4 separate regions of the Homo sapiens genome follow, and regions 1, 3 and 4 are each linked to region 2. The links come from fine-mapping of genetic effects on gene expression. A gene starts in region 2. Each other region holds a variant in brackets. All regions are shown on one strand. Distances are between the middles of the regions. Region 1 overlaps ACOXL (acyl-CoA oxidase like). Region 2 holds the start of ACOXL (acyl-CoA oxidase like). Region 3 has its middle 23 kb from the start of ACOXL. Region 4 holds the start of LOC124907866 (a long non-coding RNA gene).

Region 1 (5,151 bases), 290 kb before region 2:
AAAATTTAAATACACTGTGAAGCAAATGAAAAGGCAGGTAATGGATGAGGCAAAAATCTATGCAATCTCATATAATAAAGGATTTCTGTACAGAATTTGTAAAGACATCTACAGCTCAGTCACAGGAAAACAAAACCCAGTTTAACAGATGGACAGAAAATCTGAACACACACTTCACCAAAGAAGACAAAATGAATAGCAAATAAACACATGAAGAAGATCTGAGAAACGCAGATTAAGACCACAATGAGAAGGTACTACGCACCCACTAAAATGGCTAAAATGAGTAAGACTTGCAAAACCGAGTATTGGTGAGGATGTGGAGCAACTAAAATCATTGCTGATGGGAGTGTAAAATGTTACAGCCACTTTAGAAACAGCTGGGCAATTTCTGATTAAGTTAAACCTATACCTATAGAAGAACCCAGCCATTCCACCCCTCGGTATTTACACAAGATAAACAAAAACATATGTCCACATAAAGTCACATATAAAATTGTTCACAGAAGCTTTATTCATAATAGCCAACACGGGAAGCAGTGCGTACATCTACCACCTGCTTAATGGGTAAACAAATTGTATACACCTACACAAACGAATACCACTTCACAATAAAGAGGAACAAACCTAAGCTGTTCCATTTCTATTAAATTATAGAAAAGGCAAATTTACAATGAAAGAAAGATAAGTAGTTTCCAGGAGTTGGGGATGGGGAAGGGATTGACTGCAAAGTTGCACAAAGGAACTTTGTGGGTGACAGAAATGTCCTATATCCAGATGCTAGTGGTGGTTATATGACATATGCATTTGTCAAAACTGGTTAGTTGTACATTTAAAATTGGTTAATTTTAATTCATGTAAATTATATGTAATATATATTATTATACATTTATATATTATATAATTTTTATATATAAAAATGGATTTCTTTTTTTTTAAATCTCACCTCCCCATACTCCCTAGCCGCTAGGGTTAGACATGTAACCTCCCTTGCCAATGAGAACAGGCAGTTGTCTACCGGGAAGCTCCTCTGTAAAAGCTACTGTTTTCCTGATAACAAGATACCGCCTTTTTCTCTTTGTCCTTTCTGCACCTACCTGCTTGGAACTCAGCCACCATGTGACCTTGAGAACAGTTTTAAAGGCTGCACTATGGAGGTATATTGGTTCCCTAGGGCTGCTGTAACTCCTTACCACAATCCTAGTGGCTAAAAACAGAAATGTATTCTCTCGCAGTTCTGGAGGCTAGAAGTCTGAAATCAAGGTGTCAGCAGTTCCATGCCACCTCTGAAGGTTCTTTCTTTCCTCTTCTGGCTTCTGGTGGTTGCCAGTGGTCTCCAACATTCCTTGGCTTGCAGCTGCTTCACTCCCATTGCTGCCTCCACCAGCATAAAGCCTTCTTCCATGAGTCTCTGCTCTTCTTATAAAGACAGCAGTCATATTGGGTTAAAGCCCACCCTACTCCAGTGTGACCTAATTTGATTCCATCTGCAAAGACCCTATTTCCAACAGGGTCACATTCACAGGTACTGCGGGTTAGGACTTGAACATATCTTTTTCAAGGACAGAATTCAATCTACAACCTGGGGACAGAGAGGACGGAGAGAGTAAGAGCCCTGGCCCTTCTTTGTCATGGAGCCACAGCCTGAGTCCTAGGCTGCCTACCTCTGTCTTCTCATTGGGGGAGAACAGCAAGCCCCTCTTTAGTTAAACCACAGCAGACAAGCACTTTAGCTGATACACTCTGCCTCCCCTAATTGTTAAAGGTGATCACAGTCCCTCCTTGACCTGTTCAACAGGAGGCCAGGGTGCCCAGCACTAGCAAAACACTGGGCCTGAGGTGGCAGTTCACTGAGTGAGTGAGTGCTCAGATTGTCCTTGCATGTTCTCTTGGCCCAGCCACCCACCTTCCACCATCGCAGCCTAGGAGTGTCCCTCCTCGGTCTGGGTGTCCTTGGTCTTCTCCCAACCACAGCATTTTAAGGCCCCTGTGGTGGCTTCCCCAGCTGTGACAGCTTCCCCAGCTGTGACAGCTTCAATTTCCCTGTCTGGCCCATGCCTTCCTCCAGCCCTGTGTTCTGTGCCCACTCTGCCCTCCAGCCACGCTGAGGGGCTCAGTGTCTCTCTTGGCAATTATCCTCCATCCTGCTCCATACCCAGGACCACCTAACGCTCAGCAGCATGCTCTGCATCTCACTATTTCCCATGGGGCCCCTTCTCCCACACGTCCCCACACCCATCCGGACCCACAGATGGCCCCTTCCTCATGCCAGCCTTCCAGCCCAATACCACTTCCACGGGCTACAGATGTCTCCCTGTAATCAAAAAATCCCATTTTTTGATTAAAACAGGATGAGCAGAAACCTGAGGGAGTGCACAATCCTCTGCAGAATGCATCAGGCCTTTCCAGTGCCATCATTTCTGCTTCCACCTTCTGAGTTCTTCAGGGTCCTGTCCAGGGCAGCGTTTAAAACATTCCTCCCCTTGTACCTAGCCCCAGATCCATTTGTATGTCCTTAGAGTGATTTGACCGTGCTTACTCCTAAATCTCCCCGCTCCCCTCTCATCTCCCTGTGCACAGAGGTGGCATCATCAGGAAAGAGTCCAGTCCTGATCAATAACTGCACTCCCACCTGGTAGACAGAA[G/A]GACGTCTCGGAGCCTGGATGTCAGCTTTTGCGACACACATCAGGTGCTGCCCCTCTCACATGACGCCCATCAGATATGGAGTTCAACAACAGACATGGAGTATGCAGCTACATTAAAATATTTTTATAGACAAGTAGAGGCCAACACTATGATTGCTTCCCCACTTTCTGCTCTTGGGGGTGAGCCCTGAACTGCCTAGCCAGTAACCACCTTGCAGAGTCACGGGAAATGTCGCAAGCCAGATCTTCCCAGGCCACAGAGTCTTTTTTCTTCCTCCTTCTCCTTCCTTTTCTTCTCTTTCCTTTCTGTAGTAAGTGTCGCCAGTGGCCTGGGCTTCCAGCGTGGTCACCTCCAACACAGTGGTACCTGCCCTCGCCTCCCTCTGCTGCAGGCCCCTAGGAGCCCTCCCTGCCTCCTGGTTGGCCCTGGCTGGGAGGTCTGGGGGCCCCTGGGGGTCCTGCCCACACCTCTCTGTGACTGCACTGGCTGATGTGGGCAGAACACGCGGCTGCCTTCCTCGGGGTCCCCAGAAGCACCTCCAGATGCCATTGCTTGCCTTGGGGGTATCCTGACAGATGTAAGCCCGCCCCTGCCTGTGCCAGGGGCAGGAAGGGACCATCCCTCATCTGCTCAGCCCCATCTCTATCTTCCTGTCTCTCTTCCGGTTTGACTTTCTTTCTTGTGTGTGCCTTTGTGTGTGTGTGTGTGTGTGTGTGTGTGAGGAGGGGTCTTTATATATTTGTCTGTCTTCCTGTATTTTTCTTTTTCTTTTTTTTGATATGGAGTTTCGCTCTTGTCACCTAGGCTGGAGTGCAGTGGAACGATCTCGGCTCACCACAACCACTGCCTCCTGGTTTCAAGCGATTCTCCAGCCTTGGCCTCCCAAGTAGCTGGGATTACAGGCGCCCACCACCATGCCTGGCTAATTTTTGTATTTGTTTAGTGGAGACAGGGTTTCACCATGTTGGCCAGTGTTGGTCAGGCTGGTCTTGAACTCCTGACCTCAGGTGATCTGCTCGCGTCGGCCTCCCAAAGTGCTGGGATTACAGGCATGAGCCACCACGTCCGGCCTTCCTATATTTTTCTTTCTGTATTACGTCTTTACAATTTTTTCTATTCTGTATTTTTTCATCTCTCTCTCTCTGGTCTAGATGAGTTCTGTCTTTTTTTCTGGGCTTACATAAGCACTTTTTTACTCTTCTATATTTTTAATTTTGCCGTGTTTTTCTGCCTTTCTGTATTCCTTGGTCCTTCCAAGTTTTTTCTTTTTTTTCTTTTTTACATTCCCCAGAAACAGATCTCGTTTTTATTTTTATTCCTGTATTTCTATCTCTTTTTCCTTGTGGTGTTCTCTCTTGTTTCCTGGGTTAATTCAAGTGTCTCAACTTCCACTCTTCTCTCATGTATTTGCACTCCAAATGATTCCTCCCTTTCATCTTTAGATATTTTCTCTATTAAACTTGGTTTCCTCTGCTTGGCTTTGGGAAGAGGGTCCTCCCCTCTCCACCCGCAGCCTCTCTTCCTGAGCTCTGAGATGCCCTCTTTCTGTACTGAAGGGCAGGTGTGGCAGGTCCTCAAGGAGAGTCTCCCAGAGAATAAGGGGGCTGGGCCCAGTAGCCAGCGGCTCACTGGTGGCTTCTGAGATGAGAATGTGGGATTCTTGGCACCTTTGCCCTAAGCTTTGAAACTGAGCTAGAATTCCAAGACAGCAGGGTAAACAAATCTCCCTCAACATCCTGCTACATATGAGAAAAAGGGAATATGGGAGAAAGGATACAGAGAGCACCCTGATGTCCACAGTTCCCAGCTTGTTTCCCACGGAGAAAGAGAAGTGCCCAGACAGGACTGTATCCCGGATTCGGGGGCCAGCTGCAGGATTCTTGTCTGGTCTCTGAGACCCAGTGAAATGCTGAGCCCAGGTCAGAGTTGAAGTACAAGGTGCTTTCCTCCACTGGCCCACTCCTCTACCCTTCGCCCCTGCCACCCTTGCCTGTCCCAGCCTCCTCTGCACCAGAATCTCCCTTTGCTCAGAATGTGGCAGGTGACAGTTCTGCAAGGTGGAGCAGGTGAAATAGTCCCTGTCTAGGGAGGCGTGCCCCTGAGGTGCAAGGCTGGAATTCACAACACATTTTCCTAGAAAAACACAATGCCAAAGTGATCGATGGCATTGATAATGCTATGAATGGGTCCAGCAACCAGGACATACTGAGCACCTTCCATGTTCCAAGCACTGCACTGAAGTGCTGTGTAAGAAAGACATTCTGCTTTTACAGAGGAGTCTCAGAAGAGTTCAACATCTGTCTCTAGGTCACACACTGGAACCCAAATAAATATGGCTCCAAAGAATACGATCTGTCTGGCCCTCCTGGTCCCCAGGCCCCAACACAGCTGGTTCAGCACAGCTGCATGAGAGCCCACATCATTGTTCACAAAGGGGGCTCCTAGCAGACTGTCTTGTTCACAGCAGCAAAAATATCATCTTTCTCAATGGTGTTTGGTGCAGGG
Region 2 (5,151 bases):
TTGCGTGCAAGTGTGTTTTGGTATCCCACCACAACCAGTGTTTACTCCATGCCCACGCAACAGTTTTTCATTCAAGCTTCATAACACAGCAGCATTGATATTATCTGCATTCTGTAGATGAACAAATGTAAGTCAATAAGGGGGAAAAAAAAATCCAGGACAATGGTCACACAGGAAATAAACTGCCACACTGGACCCCTTATCCAGGCATGCCTTTCCTCTGTCCCTATGGAATTCACAAGGAAGTCCCTTCTGCTTGCCTCAAATCAGTAGTTTGGTTATTACAATTTTGTTCCGTCTTTTAAACTGCAGTTATCTAAACTGAAAGACAAAGAGGTGATAGCCCAGGAACAAACTGAAAAGACTGAGGAATATAGGAGGGGATGTGTGTCTAATCAGATGCGACTGAACTCAGTATGACTTAAAGCAGCCGTTCACAAACATTGATTTTAGGAACTCTTTGCACTGTTAAGAATTATGAGGTCCCAGCACTTTGGGAGACCGAGGCAGGCGGATCGCTTGAGGTCAGAAGTTCAAGACCAGCCTGGCCAACACGGTGAAACCCCATCTCTACTAAAAATACAAAAAATTAGCCAGGCGTGGTGGTGGGTGCCTGTAATCTCAGCTACTCCGGAGGCTGAGACAGGAGAATCGCTTGAACCCAGGAGGTGGAGGTTGCAGTGAGCTGAGATCACACCACAGCACTCCAGCCTGGACAACAGAGTCAGACTCCGTCTCAAAAAAAAAAAATTATGAGGTCCCCAAAGAGCTTTTATTTGGGTGGGTTATATCCACTGATATTTCCCGTATTAGAAATTAAAACAGAAAAGTTTTCAAATGTTTATTAATTCATTTGAAAATAACTAATAAATCTATTAGTGTATTTTATGAAAATAACTATTTTCCAAAACAAAAAAAGTTAGCAAGAAGAGTAGCATCGTTCTATATTTTTACAAATCCCTTTACTGTCTGTCTTAATAGAAAGCAGCTGTATTCTCATGTCTGCTTCTATATTTTTTCTGCTGGAATACTACACATCATGTGGTCTCTGGAAACTGCCACTGTACATTAGTGAGAGAATGAGAGTGAAAAAGCTAATAACTTTTTTTGTATTACTATAAAAACAGTTTGTACTCATGAACCGCCTGAAATGCTCTTGGGTCCCCCCAGGGCTCCCTGTACCACACTTTGAGAACCATAACTTAAAGAACTATGTATGAGAGAGAGGGAAAGAGAAGTCGGCGAGACACTGATGGATATACCCACCATCCCACACTTCTCACTTTTCAACTTTCAAACGCCCCCAACTCCCCACTAGGTAACCTCAGTGCAGGAACCCCAGATTCTCCAAGGACAGCCTGACGTTCACTCAAGCCATCTCCTTCCCTCTCATTTCCGCAAAATAAATTAAACGAGGGCTAAGTGGGCATGGCTAACCAATTAATCCTCCACGGGCACATACTGACATTTTTAATAGGGCCTTTCTTAAGCTAGAACTCCAAAGCATGCCTCCAACTGGGCTTTTCAGACTGCTTGAAATGGGTATGAGAAAGAGAGCCCACAGGAGACACGAATGCCGAGTTCTGGTCCTGACTGTCCGGTGACTGAACCATCTCTCTATCTCCAGTGCAGCTCAAGCACTCAACCCTCTGCCTGCTTCTCAGGGCTGTCCTGGCATCGGATGACATCGAGGACCTGAGTTCTTCTTATAACCAAACCGCCCCGCTGAAGCTGCCCATTCCGCACACCTGCACTCCGAGGGGGTCCTGTAAGCCTGTCCCACCCCGACGCCCAGACACGCCCTGGACAGGGCCACTCCATCCCTGTGCGCCCATCCCATCGCGGTTTTCTGTCCCCTTCTCCCCACCAAGGGTGGGACATCGCGGGGCGGGGACTCAAGAAACAGGTTCAACAAACCAGCAAGGCCGATCTTCCAGCCACACGGTCTTCGTAGACACCGCGCCTGTCACCGCGGGGCCCAGCCCTGCACCCGACTCTTCGTGGGGGAGGGAGCTCGGGAGGAGAGGGCACCTCTCAGGGGGCCGAAGAGGTCGGCGGCGGCCGGCTGCGCCCACACACCTGGGGAGGGGAGCCCGTCACCTGCGGCGAGGCAGGGACCCGCCTCTCAGGCGCGGCGCACACCCCACCTCGCCCTCGCCAGGGCGTTGTCCGCAGCGACGCTCCGGGGACCGAGGGGACACGCTCGGCGGCTTCGGGGGCGCGGGCAGGGGCGACGGCCGCAGCGCGGTACCTTTGCCGGAAGAGCGGGCGCCGCCGAGGAGTCCGCGCAGCTCGTTCTTGAGGCTCCAGAAGTCGCCGTCCAGGTAGCGGTGCAGGGAGGAGTCCCCGAGCCCCAGACCCGGCGCCGGCTGCATCGCGCTCACCTGCCTCTGCTTCTCCGCGTGGCTGGCAGGGCCGGCTTCGCTCCGCGCCTCCTCCAGCTCCCAGCAGGTGAGGCCCCAGGCGCACGCCCTCTCCCTCTCCACCCCTCCCGGCCCGTCTCCTCCCTCCTCACCTTCCTCTCCCCTCCCTCCCCGGCCCCGCCCTGCCCTGGCTTCCCGGGCGGGAGGTCCGGCGCGAGCGGGCGCTTCTACGGTGGCCTCCCCTTGCCCTTCCGAGGAAGCGAAAACTCTACCCTCCAGTTATCAACTGTCCCTCAAGATTTGTGAGCCGTAAGAAACAAGTACTAGACCCCTAGAAAGGGTGCCAGTCACGTGGACCTGGGCACCAGAGGCCCGGCTGCTCAGGACTGACCGGCTGACCCACTCAGCAGATCTCCCGGCCAGCCACTTTGCCTGACCCCCACGACCCAAGATAGCCTGGCTCCAGCTCTGGCCCCTCCTCAGCTGTATCTCACCTCTTCCCCGCACTGGGCATTACTGTGAACTCTAATATCACGGTAATCTAAAGGCGTCCCAGGTCTACAGCACTGCAGTCCAGGGTAGCTGGAAGCTGCATTCATGACGAGGTGATCGACCGGAACACGATACTCATTTCCCAGGACACTCCTTTTTTTGTTGTGGCTGGAGGAAAATGAGTTATAACCTAAGTGGAAAATGTTCCTTCCTTTCTGCTCCCTAATTCTCATATACCTTGTTGATTCTCCTTTTAAATACTCAAGGAAATGTTAGCCGTTCCCTTCCAGAGGCTACTTTGCTGGGGAGATGATGGTGTGGTCTGCTGTCGTGAGGTTAGTGGATGCCATCTGTATTCGTTTCCAGTAACAAATTCCCACAAAGTGAGTGGCTTAAGATAGCACCAATTTATTCTCTTACATTTCTGGAAGTCAGAAGTCCAAAATAGGACTTACAGGGTTAAAATCAAGGTGTTGGCAGAGCTGGGTTCCTTCTCACAGCTCCAGGGAAAAATGCATTTCCTTGTCTTTACTAGCTCCTAGAGGCTGCCTGCATTTCTTAGCTCCTGGCCCCTTCGTCTGTCTTCAAAATGCATCACTTCAAGCTCTGCTTTCATCGTTCCATCTTCTACTGACTTTGACCTTCTTGCCTCCCTTGGACTTGTTTACATGGGACCCATGGGAATAATCCATGGTCAATGGGAATAATCTTCCCACCACAAGATCCATACTTTAATCACACCAGCAATGTCCATTTTGCCATATCAGAAACACACTCTCCGGTACTAGGGATTAAAACATGAGCACCTTTGGCGAGTCATTCCTCTGTCTACCACACCTGTGCAGCTGCGAGTAATAATACCCAGTCATCCATGATAAAAGGGGCTTTGTTTTCTCACATCACAGGAAGCTTGGTGGTAGGAAAGCCCCAGGGGTGAATTTGATGGCTCTACCCTGGGGACCCAGGTCCTTTGCATCTTTCTGCTCCACCATCCGCCATCCTTTCTCTATATGTAATCGTTACCTTTTTTTTTTTAACTTGTCTTCTACCAGTTGTAAGATGGATGCTGCAGCTCCAAGCACCACCCTGTGCAAAGCAGAAGAGGAGTATTTCCTTCTATATCAGCCAAAATAGTGTAGTGGTAACAAACAACCCCGAAACGACTTCACATACACTTCCTCAAATCTTAGGGCCTAAAAAGACAAGAGTTTATTTCTCACTCATGCTACCTGGGGGTTCTGTTCCATGTCCCCTCGGTCCAGGTCCTGGCTGACAGAACAGCCATGATTGTGTGGCCACACTGGCTTTTAAAGCTTCCAGCTGGAAGAGACACACATAACTTCTACTCACAATCCACTGGACAAAGCAGCTCACTCCTGTCTCGATGGGGGAAGGGAGGTACCACCCTGGACATGCCCAGGAGGTCAACACCCAAAATCATCTGTAAGCAGAGCTAGTGACTATTCAATCTGCCCTTCTGGTCACACTCTCCCTTCCACAGGCAAAATATACTCTCCATCCTTCCAGGGAAGCAGCCAAAGCCCCACACCTCCACAACATCAAGTCTGAGGCCCCTGGGGGATACAGAGTGGTCCTTGCATCAAGTCAGGATGTGGCTCCTCTTGATCCGGAGACCTATAAACTGAAAAGATAGGTTACTAAGTTAACTTCCAAGTGAGTGTTTGCTTGAGTGAGAAAAAAGAAAGGCCTCTGTTCTTAGAAGCCACTAAGATTTTTGTTGTTGTTGTTGTTGTTTCTTGACGTGGAGTTTTGCTCTTGTTGCCCAGGCTGGAGTGCAATGGCATGATCTTGGCTCACTGCAACCTCTGCCTCCTGGGTTCAAGCGATTCTCCTGTCTCAGCCTCCTGAGTAGCTGGGATTACAGGTGCCCGCCACCAAGCCTGGCAATTTTTTGTATTTTTAGTGGAGACACGGTTTCACCATGTTGGCCAGGCTGGTCTCAAACTCCTGACCTCAGGTGATTGTGATCCACCCACCTCGACCTCCCGAAGTGCTGGGTTTACAGGCATGAGCCACCGCACCCGGCCAACCACTAAGATTTTTTTTGAGGGTCATTTGTTACGTAGCCAATCATAGAAGATACTAAAAGAATGTTGCTGATTAAATAAAAAACTAAAATAGGTACATTGGCTTAGAGGCTGGGAGGGGCAAGGAGGATGCTGTCGACCAAAGCATTGTTGTTGACCAAAATTGAAAATGGTCCCTTTTATGAAGAGGCAAATATTTGACAAAGTTGCCACTGACAGGAGACAGACCTAACTTGGAACTTATCACT
Region 3 (5,151 bases), 23 kb after region 2:
CCAGAGGCAAGAGCTCTGTGATGGACCCTATCCAGACCAGCAGGGTGAGGAGGGAAAATGGTCGCAGCAGTGTTGCTCCTGTAGAATGGAGAGGTGGCTTTCCCCCAGGAATGAGACATCTGGCCAAAGGTATTGGGGGCAGCGTTGTGACAGGGAGGCAGAGATCAAGCCTACGTGGAGTGTGATGCTGTGCTGCTCTGGCCTAAGGTGTGCAGCGTCTCCAAGGACACTGCTCAGCTCCCTTAGTATCAGGGCAACTGCACCAGGCTCAAGCCAGAGAGCTCCAAGAAGGGCCAAATTTCAGAATGGACTCAAGACTGCTGCCTTTCCACTGTCATCACTGCCCAGACTCCACTCAGACAATCTCAAGAGATTCCTTTAGAGCTCAGGTGCTTCCTTGTCTTCCCATTTATTTAGGGATTTCTACCCAGAGGGTCAGAAATTAACAGAAAGCCCAACTTCACTGCAACAAGGGGAAATAGGAATTTTGCTATTTTCTGATCATGGACAAATGCAGTCAGTTGTTTGATGCCAGGAAAATTCATCTGCTACTAAATCTCTACATATATATGACTTCATTTTTTCAGTTTTCTTTGCTTCAAAGGATGTTTATTTAAGTTATATTTGTACGCTCTCCCCCTAAGACATACAGAACACTGCGCAACTGTGAACTGTACTTAAGTAGGCATTTCATATTCCATTTTTACGGTAACCCCTTGCAGGGAAAGAGTCAGTGCAGCAAATCTGTTTTGCTCAATTCTAGCTTATCTCTGAGGATGTCTGGAGCCAGGATCTAAGAACTAAACCTTGGAATGTTCACAAATGATGTCATTCTGTGCCCAGCACATTGGGGTAGGACATACTAAACCATCAACACCATTTAAAGCAAACATGAACCTCTATGATGTACACCTGGTGCCTGGTTTGAGGCTCACAACACGAGTGCTTGCGTAGCAGGTATGCACCAGAACTGTGCCTGAGTTCTCTGCTCTTCAAAGCTGGAAAGAAAACATGTGTGTGTGTAAGCCATGCAGAAGGACAAAAGCCTGTTCCTGAGCATTTTAGCCTTCACCTGTACGTGTATTTTTTTTTTTCTGTTCTGGCACTGTATCTTTTGCAATAAACCTTAGCGGTGAGTAGAATCTGATGCTGAGTTATGCAGGTTCTTCTAGTGAATTACTGAACCAGTGAGTAGTCATAGGCCCCCAGAACCTGCCTAATTTTCAAAGTAAAATTTTTAATTACTTGGAATGAAGTTCAATCCTAGATACTACCTAGGAACAGCAACCTCAAATATCTCATTACAGCTTTGCTGCTTTTAGAGTAAATAATCACAGAAACTTTTACCTCCCAGAGCCTATTAATTCCCCTCTCCACTTCTATTCTTCTTAATAACAATCACATATATACTGATAGGAATCACTGGTTATTTTGAAGACATATAAGTGGTAAGGAACCCAGTTCCACCTCCTCCCACAGTAACAAAATAAAGGAGGAAGCAAAGATATATAGGAGCAAAAGTTTCGTGCACTATCAAGAATAAATTGAGGCTGGGTGCGGTGGCTCACACCTGCAATCCCAGCACTTTGGGAGGCTCAGGCAGGCAGACCACTTGATGTCAGGAGTTCAAGACCAGCCTGGCCAACATGGTGAAACTCTGTCCCTACCAAAAAATACAAAAATTAGCCAAGCATGGTGGCACGCACCTGTAGTACCAGCTACTCGCCCAGCTGAGGTGGGAGAATTGCTTGAACCCAGGAAGCGGAGGCTTCAGTGAGCCACGATCGCACCACTGCACTCCAGTCAAGACCCTGTCTCAAAAAATTTGTAAAAAAGGAAAAATTGATATTAATTTCATCCAGATTGTTATAAATTATGTTAGTCGTAACCCCCAGGGCAAACACTAAGAAAATGACTAAAAATATATAGTAAAAGAAATGAAAATGGAATCAAAATGGTACTGTAAAAAATATCTTTCTGTGTACACTGACAGACAACACCAAAAAAAGAAATAAAATATATTTTTAATACAAAAGAAGGGAATAACAGGAACTGAGGAACAAAAAATATGTAAGACATTTAGAAAACAAAAATAAAATGCAGAAGTAATGATCAGTAATCACGTTAAATAAAAATAGATTAAACTCTTCATTTAAAAACCAGATATTGGCAGAATGGGTGAACATTTCCCAATTATACCCCAGCTACAAGATACTCATTTTTGTTTCAAGTCACACATAGGTTGAAAATGAGAGGACACAAAAAGATATTCCATGAAAATAGTAACCCAAAGAGAGCTGGAGTGGCTACTAATGTCAGACAAAATAGACTTTAAGACAAAAATTGTTACAAGAGGCAAGGAGGGCATTTATATAATGATAAAAGGGTCAATTTATTAAGATATATAACAGGTATAAACATATGCACTCAATAACAGAGTCTCAAAATATATGAAGCAAAAACTAACAGAATTGAAGTGAGAAATAGACAGTTAAATAATAAAAGTTGAAAAATTCAACACCCTCCTTTCAATAATGAATAGAACAACTAACCATGGCCAGGTGCAGTGGCTCACACCTGTAATCCCAGCACTTTGGGAGGCCGAGGTGGGTGGATCACTTAAGGTCAGGAGTTTGAGACCAGCCTGGCCAACATGGTGAAACCCCGTCTCAACTAAAAATACAGAAATTAGTCGGGTGTGGGGGCGGGTGCCCATAATCCCAGCTACTCGGGAGGCTGAGGCAAGAGAATCGCTTGAACCCGAGAGGCAGAAGTTGCAGTGAGCCGAGATTGCATCACTGCACTTCAGCCTGGGTGACGTGACAAAGCAAGACTCCATCTAAAAAAA[A/C]AAAAAAAAAGAAGAACAGCTAAAGAAATGATAAACAAGGAAACAGAAGACTTGAACAACACTTTAAACCAACTGAATTGAACAGACATATATATAGCATTTCACTAAACAACAGCAAAACATACATTATTTTCAAGTGCTAATGGAACAACTTCCAGGATGACCATAGGTTAATCCACAAATGAAGCCTCAATAAGTGTAAAACAAGTGAAGGCATACAAAGTATCTTCTTTGACACAATGGAATAAACTTAGAAATCAATAGCAGAAGGAAATTTAGAAAATTCAGAAATTTGTGGAAATTAAATGGCACACTCTTAAATAACTGATGGATCAAAAAGAAATAACAAGAGAAAATTGAAAATACTTTCAGAAAAACAAAACATTCCCAAACCTATGAGATGCAGCAAAGGCAGCAGGCAGAGAGAAATGTATGGCTGTAAGTGCCCACATTGAAAAGAAAAAAGATTCAAATCAACTGAACTTCAACCTTAAGGAACTAGAAAAAGGAAAGCAATTAAACCCAAAGAGCAGAAGGGGAAAAAATAACAAAGACTGGAGCAGGGATAAATGAAATAGAAGACAGAAAAATGATGGAAAGAATCAACAAAACCAAACGTTTATTCTTGGAAAAGATTGATAAAATAGGCAAATTTGGCTGGCAAAATGTGGTGGCTCACAACTGCATTCCCAGAACTTTGGGTGGCTGAGGTAGGAGGATTGCTTGAGGCCAGGAGTTTGACACCAGACTGGGCAACATAGTGAGACCCCATCTCTACTTTAAAAAATGAAGACAAACTTTTAGCTAGACTGATTAAAAGAGAGAGAGAGTGAGAGACAGAGAGAGAGAGAGAGAAGAAAAAAATCAAGAATTAAAGTGGAGACTTTACTACCATCCTAACAGAAATCAAAAGAATTACAAGAGAGTGCTATGAACAATTGCATGCCAACAAAATAGATAACAGATGAAATTGACAAATTCCTAGAAACACACAAAACTAGTCAAACTGACAGAAGAAAAAAAAATAAGCAATCTGAATACAACAGATGAAGAGACTGAATTGGTAATTTAAAAAATCTTCCAACAAAGAAAAGCCCAAGGCCAGATTGCTTCATAGCAGATTTCTACCAAACATTTATAGAGGAATTGATGCCAATCCATCTCAAATTCTTCCAAAATTTGGAAGAAAAAAGACCACTTCTTCATTCTATGAGGCAAGTATTTCCCTGATACCAAAGCCAGACAAAGACATCACAAAGATGAAAACTGGCAACCAATATCCCTTATGAATACAGAGGCAAAAATCCTCAATAAAATACAAATAATCTGAATCCAGCAGCATATTAAAAAATTGTATATGAGATATATCCCTTGAGTGCAAGAGTGAGTCAACATATGAAAATCAGTCAATATAATACATCGTTTTAATAGAATGAAGAAAAAACTCCACATGATCATCCCAACTCAACAGATATAGGAAAAAAGCATTTGATGAAATCCATCCTGCTTTCATAATAAGAAACAAAACAAAATACTCAACAAACTAGGGAACTTTCTCAACCCAATAAAGGGAAGCCATGAAAAACCCACAGCTAACATCATTCTTAATAGTGAATACCTGAAAGCTTTCACCCTAATATCAGGAACATGACATGGATGTCTGCTCACATTACTGTTATTTAACATTTTATTGAACTGTCTAGCCAGGACAATTAGGCAAGAAAAAGAAATAAAAGTCACCCAACTTGTAAAGAGAGAAGTAAAACTATAACTATTTGCAGATGATACCATTTTTTTTTTCTTTTTGAGGCAGAGTCTCATTCTATTGCCCAAGCTGGAGTGCAGTTGCAGTGGTGTAGTCACAGATCACTATAACCTCAAACTCCTGGGCTCAAGTGATCCTCCTGCCTCAGCCTTCTGAGTAGCTAGGACTATAGGTACATATCACCTTCCCCAGCTAATTTTTAATTTTTTGTAGCAATGGGGTCTTGCTATGTTGCCCCAGCTTGATGTAATATTATATATAGGAAATATTAATCAGTCACAAAACTATTAGAGCTAATAAATAAATTCAGCAAAGCAGCAGGTTACAAAATCAATATACAAAATCTACTGTATTTTATATACCATTCCAAAAATGAAATTTAAGAAAACAATTCAATTTATAAAACCATCAAAAAGAATAAGATACTTTTATGAATAAATCTAACCAAAAAGCAAGACTTGTGCACTGAAAACTACAAAACATTGTTGAAAGAAATCAAATACCTAAATAAATGAAACAAATCCTGTGCTACTAATTT
Region 4 (5,151 bases), 320 kb before region 2:
AACGCCACTGGAGGTCACGCAAATTCCAGGAAACCTCAGGCCATCTTAGCCTTCCTCTCCCAACCCCAATCTGTTAGTTTCTAACCGAATGTGCTAGAGAAGCCAGCCAGAGCACCATGAAAGTCAGCAAGAAGGTGAAATGGTGAGAGGAGGAGGGGCCTTTGGTTACATCTCTTTTCACCTCTCACTCTAGATGTGAAGAAACTCAGAGGGGGCTGCGGCATCCCAAGTCGGGGAGGCCATGAGGACCACTAGAAGCAGGCCTGGAGGTGTGGTCTCTGGGGCTGGGCTCTGTCGCTGCCCTCTGTACCCCAAAATGCCTCTGAGATGCCCATGTAACCTCCAGGGGAGCCCAGGAGCTTCACCTCCTGCAAATGGGGAGAGATGGACAGTAGGAGAAGAACAAGAGAGAAGCAAGAAGCAAATGGTAGGAGAAAACACAGGATAGAGGGAAGAAAGACCAAAGGCCGGTGAGCAGAGAAAAGAGGTGAGCATCCAGGGCCCAAGAGCTGCTTCAAGGTCATGGAAAGCCAGCCTGCACCTGGAAGGAAAGGTCCTTGCAGAATAGAACTTAAAGCAGGAAACAGAGAATTAAGCGTGGCAAACAAGAAACGCCCATGTGCCTGAATCTATATCATTCTAAGTCAGTGTATCAGACGCCCAGGACTCTGAAAAATCAGGGTTCCCAGACAAACCCAACACTTGGTATGAGCAGCGCTTCTTTATTATAAAACTAACATCACTGAAAGCTTTTTTTTTTTTAAAGACCAAAAATATCACATCTTAGGCAAATGAGTTGAAAATCCCTCAGAGTGACACCCTATTTTTTTTCCACCCATTTCTAAAGTCAGAGGACACCTGGTAAAGAAGCTGGTTTTTAGATAAAGAAATGCAATTCCTGGTGCACGCGGTTTCCTGGTGGTACAGCACTGAAGTGACATCATGGAAATATTTGTACCTCAAGGTCAGTCTGCAAGGTTTCTGTGTGAAAGCATGAGTCTTAGTGGTGGGAAAGTATGTGTGTGCACCTTTGTGATCTGCTGCTGTTTACTGCTCTCTGCTTCAAAGACAAAGTTTTAATTAAATCCAGGTGGGCAGCTTGCCAGGGTTTTCCACACTTTTGGCTCACCTAGGTAGGCAGCCTAAGTGCAGGTTATACCATTTGGAAATGCCTCTGCTCCTGTCACTTGGAAGGAAATAAAACAACTGTTCCTTGGGGCGGGGGGTTGGGGGGAAGAAGCTTGTCTTCCACTCAAGGGCAAGGAATCTATGACATAAGATGCTCATTCTGGTGGTGAATATGAACAGTCTAATTTGTGTAGCATTCCTTAAGGTGCCAAAAGTAGGAAGCAGCAGACTGGGAACGTATGGAATCCTTTGTCTTAATTAAAAATATAGTGGGAGATGTGGAATTTGGCCAAGCCTCATAAATCTGCTAAAAAAGCATCAAGACTCCATCAGATAAGTTTAAATAGAACCAACTGAGCCCTCTGGAGAGTTAAACAGATTCCCCACTCATGTGGACACCCACTCTCCTGTCACTTTCCCGCACTCCGCAGGCAGCAGTGGTGCTCGTTAACCAGCAACCCTCCAATTCGCCTATGACAAGCTTATCCCCCTGGAGCACACGATTCAGACATGATAAATTTACTCCCGCTTGTAAAAATGAAACTCTCCTCAGGGCAATAAAAACGCTCTGAGCCTTTAGGAAATAAGTTCTTTATCTGATAACCTACCTTCATTAACAAAGTCTGGTCCTCTTGGTCAGGACAGCTCTTCACTGCTAGGGAGAACTGCTCTAAGGTAACTGGAAGGGAAGAAATGGAAATTGTGAATGACTTCACTTCCGCCTCAGAGCCCTTCTGATGTGAAGGAGGACACTGTGGTTATAACAGACGTAAACAGCATGCTGTCCGTCCTTCCTTGGTGACATGGCAGAGCTCCCCAACTGTCCCCTGCATGGGTCAGGGGCCCCCGTACAGTGACTTCTCCACCCCATCAGACAGAGTCATTACAGTAGAGTACAAGGCCATTCCCATCAGCAAAGCTCCTCCCTAAACTGCCAGGAGGTCCTGGGTTCAGCTTCCTTTTGGGTCATCTTGTCCCCAGAGATGACACTCTATCTCCATTTCCTGGGACCTTCATTGAGAAGACTCCACCTGCCTTTGTAAATTTGACAGTGCTAATTTAAAAAATCTCAATCTTCCATCATGATTTCCATGGCTTTAACTCTTCTCTTGGTGTATGGCCCCAAGTGTTGACTCAAACCCCACAAACTCCCCCAAATATATAAAGTCGTCTTTCTCCAACCAACCTTCTCAAGGAGAATAGGGAAGAGAAACCCAAGAAGAT[T/C]TACGAGAAAAAAAAAAAGTTTTAGTAATCCATTGAAATTGGCCATGAAAGCTCTAGGAATATTAATCTAGAAAATTTACAAAATTACATTCCCCTTCTCATATTTATGGCCAGGTTCTCATCAAAGGCTCACTTATGTGGTGACCAATTTTTATTTTGGTGTAAGTCACAGACTGCCCTCCTGTAGGCTGTGTTGACTACATTGTTTCATGCTTGAAAATGCTCCCACAATTCTCTGCCACCCTCAGATTTAAAACCACTTATTTGACACGCATTAAGGCTTTTACTAAGTTAACCCAACTAGTTTAGCCTTTGATTGCTATACTCAAAGCTGCGTTCACTCTTTACCCTCTATGACCTTTCATTGCTCTCTGCTGGGAAGAGTTCTGCCTCTTGTCTTTGAGTAGAGCAAAACTCAGTCCTCCAACTGAACATCCCAAGCCCACCCATCCAGCCAATAAAGACATTGATTGCCCTCTGGTCCCATCCCAACTCCCGCAGATCCCACAAAGGTGGGCAGAGCTAAACTCAGCCTCAAGGCTGAGGGACAGTCTGATTCCAATGATTTGACCTCAAGCATGCCTGGATGTCATGTCTACAAATACAGATATTTTAAAGAGAACTATATCAGCAATGATGAATTTTCATCAAGAAAATATTGTCTGGGTAGGTTGTTTGTAGTTTTCAATGTTACTCTAAAATAGAATTCCTTAGACTGCTTTCATCTCTGACTAAATTACTCCATGCCATCTTGACTGCTATCAGTTGTATCTGGTGCTGATTATTTCTTCCAAGTTTAAATTTTGCTCTATCCAGTCAAGACATACTTGGGATCCATAGAGAGATCAATGTTGCCTTCCACATGCTCTCCAATGCATATACCCACCCAGTCTTCAATTGGCAGAAACCAGTGTTAATTACATAGAATCATCAATTTAATCTTTTTTAAAAATTAACTTTGCCTATAAAAGTGGCTCAGCAGAAACTTGTACATTGAGATAAGGGCCCAAGCTGTGTTAAGTTTACACGAATGCTTTTGCTGTCACTCATTCAGAATACACCTGCCTGGGAAAGACCCTGGAGGCAAGACCTCTCTCCCTCAACTCCGTCCTCAGTTTTGGACTTTTGCTGTGATCTGATTTGGTGTGATAACATATTGATCTCTGACTACTGTCTGAGGATGGCTAAAGAATAATCTACAAATTCAGGTGCTAGGTTTTCTTTAGATCACCTTTTTAAGGTGGCTATTTTATTTGGTAAAGGTTTATGCTGTAACTTAGAATCTTACTTAGTGCAGGTCAGGGAAATTGAAACACTTGCTTCCTTAGAGAGCTACTGGATTCTCACTGACAGCTCTCTCCTCTCTGTGGTGACCCTGTGTTCATACTTCTCACTGCCTGTGCACTGGACTCCACTATGATACTTTTCGTTATCATAGACATAGCACCCACTTCAAGTTACCTTGAACTCTGTACATCCAATCCAAACCAGTCAACTTCCATACCAAGCCAGCCCTTTCCAACTTTTTCCCATTTCTGTGGGACTATCATCCTCCAGCCACCAGGCCACTGAGCCTGATTCTTTGATTTCTCCCTCAGGACCCCATGCCTGCTGACTCTTGTACGATGATGTCCCTTGGATGCACCACTTTCCCACAGTAGTGCTGCCACTTTGATTTCTGGAGAACTTCTCGCTCTTTCCCAGCCTCCATGCCCACTGCTGCCACCACTCTGAGCCTGGCCCTGCTGGAGCCCTATGCCTATGGCCTGCATTCCTCCTCACCACACCAGGCCTAGCCCCTCTTCCCCGTGCAAACCACCCTGATGGCTCCTGACTCTCATTCATGCAGGGTTCCATCTTGGGCCATGCACTCCCTCCCTGTCTCCTCAGGTTGGCCAGGATCCCACCTGATATGGTTTGGTTGTATCCCCACTCAAATCTCATCTTGAATTGTAGCTCCCATAATCTCCGCATGTCACGGGAGGGGACACAGTGGGAGGTAAATGAATCATGGGGGTGGTTACCCTCCATACTGTTCTCATGATAGTGAGTTCTCATGAGATCTGATGGTTTTATACAGGGCATTTCCCCCTTTTGCTCGGCACTTTTCCTTCCTGCCACCATGTGAAGAAGGACGTGTTTGCTTCCCTTTCTGCCATGATTGTAAGTTTCTTGAGGCCTCCCCAACCCTGCAGAACTGTGAGTCAATTAAACCTCTTTCCTTCATAAATTACCCAGTCTTGGGTATGTCTTTATTAGCAGCATGAGAAAGAACTAATATACCACCCTTCTCCAGGGCCAGCATGGGGAGTAGTCTCAACACAGGTTTGGCATCAGACAGACCTGACTTTAAATCTTCCCTCTGCCACTTCCAGCTGTGTGTCCTTAGACAAGTCACACAGCCTTGCTGAGCCTCGCTTCCTCATCAGTGACGTGTGGAGCCCGGAGCCCACTTGCTGGAGCAGGTGTGAGGCTGTGTGTAAAGAAACGGTGCTGGCAGTGAGTCTGCACTCCATCTTAGGTTCCTGTACAAAGATTTCTCTAAGTCTCCCCTGTTCCCTGTTCGATGCCTTGATGTGACACATGACACATGGAGTTTTTCCTTCCCAATCAGTCTCTAGTGTTTAGATGTCCGGGCTGCCCTGGCCTCAGGAGAGGGTGCAGGAGATGGGCTTGGATCCTATCCCAGACTCTGTCCTGTCCCCATGATGTCCAGCATGCCCACAGCCATGACCCCGTTTTGTGGAACTGGACTGAAGTGCACGTGTAGGAACACAAGGCCACACTTCAGTCCAGTGC

Evidence for each region. PIP is the estimated chance that this variant, and not a neighbour inherited with it, causes the effect.
Region 1: its variant is fine-mapped to the expression of ACOXL in whole blood (TOPMed, PIP 0.92).
Region 3: its variant is fine-mapped to the expression of ACOXL in whole blood (TOPMed, PIP above 0.99).
Region 4: its variant is fine-mapped to the expression of ACOXL in lung (TOPMed, PIP above 0.99).

What each region holds. Positions count from the first base shown.
Region 1 is chr2:111,020,637-111,025,787 of GRCh38, reverse strand. All of the region lies in intron 14 of ACOXL (acyl-CoA oxidase like), which reads right to left. Among named protein-coding and RNA genes, the nearest start is that of ACOXL-AS1, 92 kb to the left of the region's middle. The variant G/A (reference allele first, on the strand shown) is at 2,646.
Region 2 is chr2:110,729,875-110,735,025 of GRCh38, reverse strand. ACOXL (acyl-CoA oxidase like) reads right to left here and starts at 2,453. Exons shown (of 18, transcript NM_001142807.4): 1 at 2,252-2,453. LOC124906064 (a long non-coding RNA gene) reads left to right here and starts at 2,601. Exons shown (of 3, transcript XR_007087181.1): 1 at 2,601-2,672; 2 at 3,122-3,190; 3 at 3,391-3,665.
Region 3 is chr2:110,707,071-110,712,221 of GRCh38, reverse strand. No RefSeq gene overlaps it. Among named protein-coding and RNA genes, the nearest start is that of ACOXL, 23 kb to the left of the region's middle. The variant A/C (reference allele first, on the strand shown) is at 2,849.
Region 4 is chr2:111,045,874-111,051,024 of GRCh38, reverse strand. ACOXL (acyl-CoA oxidase like) reads right to left here. Exons shown (of 18, transcript NM_001142807.4): 16 at 1,737-1,807. It overlaps LOC124907866 (a long non-coding RNA gene), which reads left to right and starts at 848. Exons shown (of 2, transcript XR_007087182.1): 1 at 848-964. RefSeq lists a silencer at 879-1,173 and an enhancer at 879-1,173. The variant T/C (reference allele first, on the strand shown) is at 2,353.